Regions from separate parts of the Homo sapiens genome. Here region 1 is linked to region 2. The links come from fine-mapping of genetic effects on gene expression. Tissue or cell type: whole blood. Region 2 holds a variant in brackets; the other region holds the start of a gene. All regions are shown on one strand. Distances are from middle to middle. Region 1 holds the start of OLFML2B (olfactomedin like 2B). Region 2 overlaps OLFML2B (olfactomedin like 2B).

The links. PIP is the estimated chance that this variant, and not a neighbour inherited with it, causes the effect.
Region 1: it holds the start of OLFML2B, and the variant in region 2 is fine-mapped to the expression of OLFML2B in whole blood (TOPMed, PIP above 0.99). The same link has a PIP of 0.9 or more in blood mononuclear cells.

The regions. Positions count from the first base shown.
Region 1 is chr1:162,022,430-162,025,336 of GRCh38, reverse strand. It overlaps OLFML2B (olfactomedin like 2B), which reads left to right and starts at 1,468. Exons shown (of 8, transcript NM_015441.3): 1 at 1,468-2,080. The coding sequence starts at 1,907. RefSeq lists silencers at 844-1,138, 1,207-1,356.
Region 2 is chr1:161,998,044-162,000,950 of GRCh38, reverse strand. OLFML2B (olfactomedin like 2B) reads left to right here. Exons shown (of 8, transcript NM_015441.3): 5 at 613-838; 6 at 2,602-2,907. Among named protein-coding and RNA genes, the nearest start is that of OLFML2B, 24 kb to the left of the region's middle. The variant C/T (reference allele first, on the strand shown) is at 1,419.

The DNA.
Region 1 (2,907 bases), 24 kb before region 2:
CTGTAATCCCAGTGCTTTGGGAGGGCAAGGCGGATGGATGGCTTGAGGCCAGGAGGTCGAGACCAGCCTGGCAACACGGCGAAACCCCAACTCTAGTAAAAATACAAAAAATTAAACGGGCATGGTGGCGTGCGCCTGTAATCCCAGGTACTCTGAAGGTCGAGGCACGAGAATCACTTGAACCCAGGAGGCGGAGGTTGCAGTGAGCCAAGATCATCCCGCCACTGCACTCCAGCCTGGGTGGCAGAGCAAGACTCTGTCTCAAACAAACAATCAAATACACCACATTTTATCAATGTTTACCCCCATATAGTTTCAGAAAAGATTTGATAGCTTACACAGAGGAGGGTGTGTGCATGATGTCCCCACAAACCTAGACACCCAGAGCATTGAATTTTTGTCCATAAACTGAATTTTTTGAAGATTAAAATATACTAATAAGGGTTATTATTATACTTATGTCAACTATTACTTATATGCGCTAGTTTCCTTAGTTTATTACAACCCTTATTCCTCAGCATAAGAAGCAAGGTGTTTGAATTTCCCAAGGGTGCATAATATCCTTTGAAGGGGCCTGGCTCTGTTCAATATTCCGAGTGACAGTTGTCCAGGATGGCACAGTGCCCTTCCTTAAATTCACATATTGGTAATCTTCACTGTAGGTTTATAAAAGGTTGTCCTCAGTAATTGAGGGACATAGTAACATAATTGCACACTATTGAAAGTGGACTCCCTCTTAGAGATAATCTGGTAACAGAGACCCGGAGATTTGTCCCAAACCAGGAAGACAGGAAGAGCTGTTCCCTTTGGTAATCATTTATCAGGCAGTAGCTTTCCCCATGGGGACTCGCGGAGAGTGTCGGAGATGTACAGTCATTCCCCTAACTTTCAACGTTTACACAACTCAGGACACACTCTAGGAAGGAATTCAATGATTTTCCTCTGGGTGGAGGTATTACTAGGTTCTAAAGCCGTGGCAGGCAAGCAGCTACCAACGGCGCTAAGTTCAAAGCTGCCCGAGAACTCGCCCAGAGTTAAGTCAGGGAAAAGAAACGCCTGGGAACAAACGCGCCTTCTCCCCTGCCCCAGGTGTGCTAAAGGACGATGCCGCAGATCCCTAACTAGCTCAGCCTTGGAGCGAGCGCTGGGTGCCTGCGATGGAAAGTCGCTCTTCTCGCCAAGAATGGTCGAACCCCAAAACTTCAGGGACGCCGCTCGGAGTAACTTCTCTTCACTCACTTGCGATCAGATGAGAAGAAAGTAAAGCCCTTCCAACGTCACCCTCAGCCGGCGCGCGGCAGCTGAGTCCCAGCGGGGACGGGGTCCGCCGGGTACCCCTCCGCCCGAGCCCTGTGCGCTTCCAGGTCCTCCTCCTCCGCGCGGTCACTGGCTGCATCTCCGCCGCCCCGGCACAATAGAGGCTCCGCCCTCCTTCCGCGCGAGCTCTCCGCGGCTCCCTAGCCCAGCAGCCCTCGCCCAGCAGCCCGCGCCGCCACCGCCTCTTCCCTCCCCGTGTCCGGTCCCCGTGCGTCCCGAGGCTCCCCGCCGCCCGTCCCGGCGCGCACCGCGGGCGTCTGTCCGAACGCCTTCCAGCCACCTGAGCCCTCCTGCGGGCGACTCGCTCAGCTAGCCCGTGCCCGCCTCCACCTTCTCCGTCATCCCCTCTTCCTTGCGTCCGGCTCTCCACTGGGGCTGCACAGTCGAGGGCTGCTCGCGTCGGGAAGGAGATGCCCAGAGTCTCTGGGGCGCACCCTCCCGTCCCGCTCAGCCGCACCCAGCTTTAGAAGGTGCTCTCAGCAGCCACTTTCGGGCTCTAGCGAGGACACCCTCTCGCAGAAGTCCTTGCCGAGACCCCCCGCCCCAGCCATTCTCTGAAGGGGCTGAGGACACTCTTATCGCGCCCCTCATGGCCAAGCCTCGGCTGCTAGTTCTCTACTTCGCTCTGATTGTGGTTCCGGCCTGGGTGTCCAGCATTGTCCTCACAGGGACAAGCGAGCCCCCAGATGCGCAGACAGTGGCGCCTGCGGAGGACGAGACTCTGCAAAACGAGGCGGACAACCAGGAGAACGTTTTATCTCAGGTAGGATGCAGAGTGCCACGACCGCCCTTCTTGCCCTGGATGGTGGTGAGAGCCAGAAGCTGGTCCTTGCTGAAGTGTTTGAGGGCAGCTGTTTTTCCTTCCATTACCAATGGAAAGGGCTTTTGATTTTTCATGTATCGGAATATTTTCTTAATGGAAGGATATAGGTTCTCCTCGCAAAATCATAGGGTGCTTAAAGGTCATCAAATCAGGAGAAAGGAGAGGTGAAGGAAGGGAAGATGCCGCTCGACTTCTTGAGAAGAAAGAAAACAAAGTTGTTTTTGGTTTCAGGGTTGTAAAAAGTATCTCTTGTCTATGTGGCTGTCTGTCAGAATTGGAATGTGAAAACAGCCGGATATGTTGACCAGGAGGCAGATGGCATATCCCATCGGGAGATACTTTATGGCAGAGGGTGGGACACCAGGCGGGAGCATGGGGTGAAGTCAGAACAGAAGCATGTGTGATGAATGTGAGGTGACCCCCAAACAGAGAGACTGAGAACATGACGGAGTGTACTGGGAGGGGAGAGTGGGAATGCAGATGCAGGCAGCTAGGGCAGACTGTCAGTGGGGGCCCGAGTAACCCATGATAGTGATGGGCTTCGTAAAGTGTCCGTTTACCAAGTACTTAAACTTGTTTTTTCTGACTCAATCTTCAAAACACCCTAATACCCATTTATAGATAAAGACCATAAGAGATACATGGGTAGGCCGGGCGCGGTGGCTCACGCCTGTAATCCCAGCACTTTGGGAGGCCGAGGCGGGCAGATCACGAGGTCAGGAGTTCAAGAGCAGCCTGGCCAATATGATGAAACCCCATCTCTACTA
Region 2 (2,907 bases):
TAGATCAAGATCAGTTTTACTTTGGACTTTATTCTGTATGTAGGAGGAAGGGTTTGGGGGCTGGGGGTGATATGTGTTTTAGGAAGCCCATTTTGATTGCTGTAACAAGCTTCATCCTGAGGCGGTGTGCATCCTGGTCCTTGGGCTTCATGTCCCAGCCCAGGCATCCTTCCCCTCACATGGATCTCACCCAAAACAACTTACACCAGATCTAAGTCACCCAGCATCCCTAGGCCAGATCCAAGAGGAGGACTGCATTCTCTGGGCAGTATACGTCAAGCATAGCGACACTGATTCTGGAACCAGACATCCTGGCTTCAATCTGCCTTACCACTTACCTGTTGTGGGACCTTGGGAAATTTATGTAACCTCTCTGTGCCTCAGTTTCCTGAACTGTAAATGATCATGATAAAAATATGTCCTACCTCATAGAACTGATGAGAAGATTAAATTAGTTAACATATGTAAATGTATAAAGCACTTAGAACAGTGCCTGGCTCTTCGGAAGTGCTGCTGTTATTAGCACAGCCTTGGCTCCAGCCTTGCCCCCACCTGCCCACTGCCTCTCTGACCAGTGACCTGACCTTCCCTTGTGTCCCCTCTGAGGAGCAGTATGAAGAGCGGTTTCTGCAGGAAGAAACCGTGTCCCAGCAGATCAACTCCATCGAACTTCTGCAGACGCGACCCCTGGCTCTGCCTGAGGTGGTGAAGTCACAGCGGCCCCTGCAGAGGCAGGTCCACCTGAGAGGCCGGCCGGCCTCCCAGCCCACTGTCATCCGGGGCATCACCTACTATAAAGCCAAGGTCTCTGAAGAAGAGAATGACATTGAAGAGCAGCGTGAGTTGGGGTCAACAGGGCCGCCCCAGAGGCAGGGTAGGGAGGAAGTCACCATTTGGACCATAGTGGGCTGGATTCCTGGGAGCCATACACCCCTCCATACACAGCATTCCAATTACTGCTGTGGCCCTGTTATCCAGAGCTCTCACTGCATTTCCTCACAGCTCGCTGAGTGGCCTTGGGCAAGTCACTTAACTTCTCTGAGCTTGCAGAAGACCATATGGCAGAGTGTGGCTGGGCTGGAAGGGACTTCAGTGCCCTCCAGTACAGTCCTCCCCATTTGCAGATGAGAAAACTGAGGTTTGGGGAGACTGACTTGCTTAGAGCCACAAGGTGGGCTTCTCCAATACTTGCTCCTCCCTCCGGGGGCCCTGAGCTTCCTGTCTGAGTCTCCAGCACCTCCCCTTTGATCTCTGTCCTTCTTCATTTTTCATGGAAGAGAGACGATCCCTTTTCACATCACGTTTACCTTGTTTCCTTAGGCTTCTTCCTCTTCCTGTGCTCCTCCTCGCCTCCTCCTCCTCCTCTTGTCTTCTTTCTTTTCCTTGCCCAGCACTCCCAGCAGGCCCCGACTCTTCCC[C/T]TCTCCCCAGTATGTCTGAGCGAGTCCTTCCCCATCAGGGCTGATGCAGCAGCTTCCTGTCTGTCTCCTTGCTTCTGCCTTTGCCTCCACCATGTTTATTCTCCACCCAGTAGCTGGCGTCATCATTTTGCCCATGTGTTTTTTTTGGTCATTTTTTTTGTGTCATTGATTTGTGGTAGTTTTTTACATATTCTGGATACAAGTTCTTTGCCATCATATGTATTGCAAGTATTTTCTCCCTACCTATGGCATGCATTTTTAGTTCCTTAATGGTGTTTTTGATGAGCACATGAAGTCTACTTTACCAATTATTTCTTTTGTGGTTAGAGCTCTTTGTGTCCTCTCTAAGAAATGTTTGCCTCTCCATATTCCATCTCTGCTCAAAATCCTGCAGCCTCCCCCATTTCTTTCAGAATAAAAACTGAACTCCATACACAGCCTCTAAGTCATGCATGCCCAGCGCCTGTCCTCACTGTGACCTTGCCTCTGCTTCAGTCATGCTGGCCACCTCGCTGCTCCTGGGCCGCTGCACGCATGTCCTGCCTCAGGGCCTTTTCTCTGTGGTTATTCACCCATGGAATCTTTGTGCCCGATGGCTGCTCAGCTGACTCCTTCACCTCCTCCAGGCAGCTGCTCATCTCCCCAGCTCAATGAGTCTCATCCTCACCACTTTATTCTTCTCTGCAAGTTTCCCTTCCCTTCTAGCTTGTTTGACCCTCTTTACCCTACATTTTGTTCCCCATAGCACCTTCAGGTGCACAATCCTGTCTATTATCAAGCGTCTCCACCACTATATAGAAGCTCTGTGAGGTCAAGGATCCTTGTTTTGCTTGCTGTTGTTATCCATACTCCATAAACATGTGCTGGAAGGATGGATTGGATGACTCACTTACTCCCAGCCATCGGGGTTCAGGACCCATGACTATGCGTCCTGCCAGTGACCCCTGAGTCCTGGGGGGAGCATGGCTGCAGTCTATTCAGAGAAACCCCCTGGAAATTCAATGTCCTTCCACCTGCGCTCCTGTACACCTTCTTCCAAAATCCCAGCCAGGCCCCCTCTGTAACTCAAGCCGTCGTGTTAAGGAAAGGCACCCTCTAATTCACCTGCTCATTGCCATGTGCTCTTGTCATCTGTAGGTTGTTTCTTTCCCGTGCCACAGTGAACCTTGTGTTTGTTTCACAGAAGATGAGTTTTTCAGCGGTGACAATGGAGTGGATTTGCTGATTGAAGATCAGCTCCTGAGACACAACGGCCTGATGACCAGTGTCACCCGGAGGCCTGCAGCCACCCGTCAGGGACACAGCACTGCTGTGACAAGCGACCTGAACGCTCGGACCGCACCCTGGTCCTCAGCACTGCCACAGCCCTCGACCTCAGATCCCAGCATCGCCAACCATGCCTCAGTGGGACCAACACTCCAAACAACCTCGGTGTCTCCAGATCCCACAAGGGAGTCAGTCCTGCAGCCTTCTCCTCAGGTACCAGCCA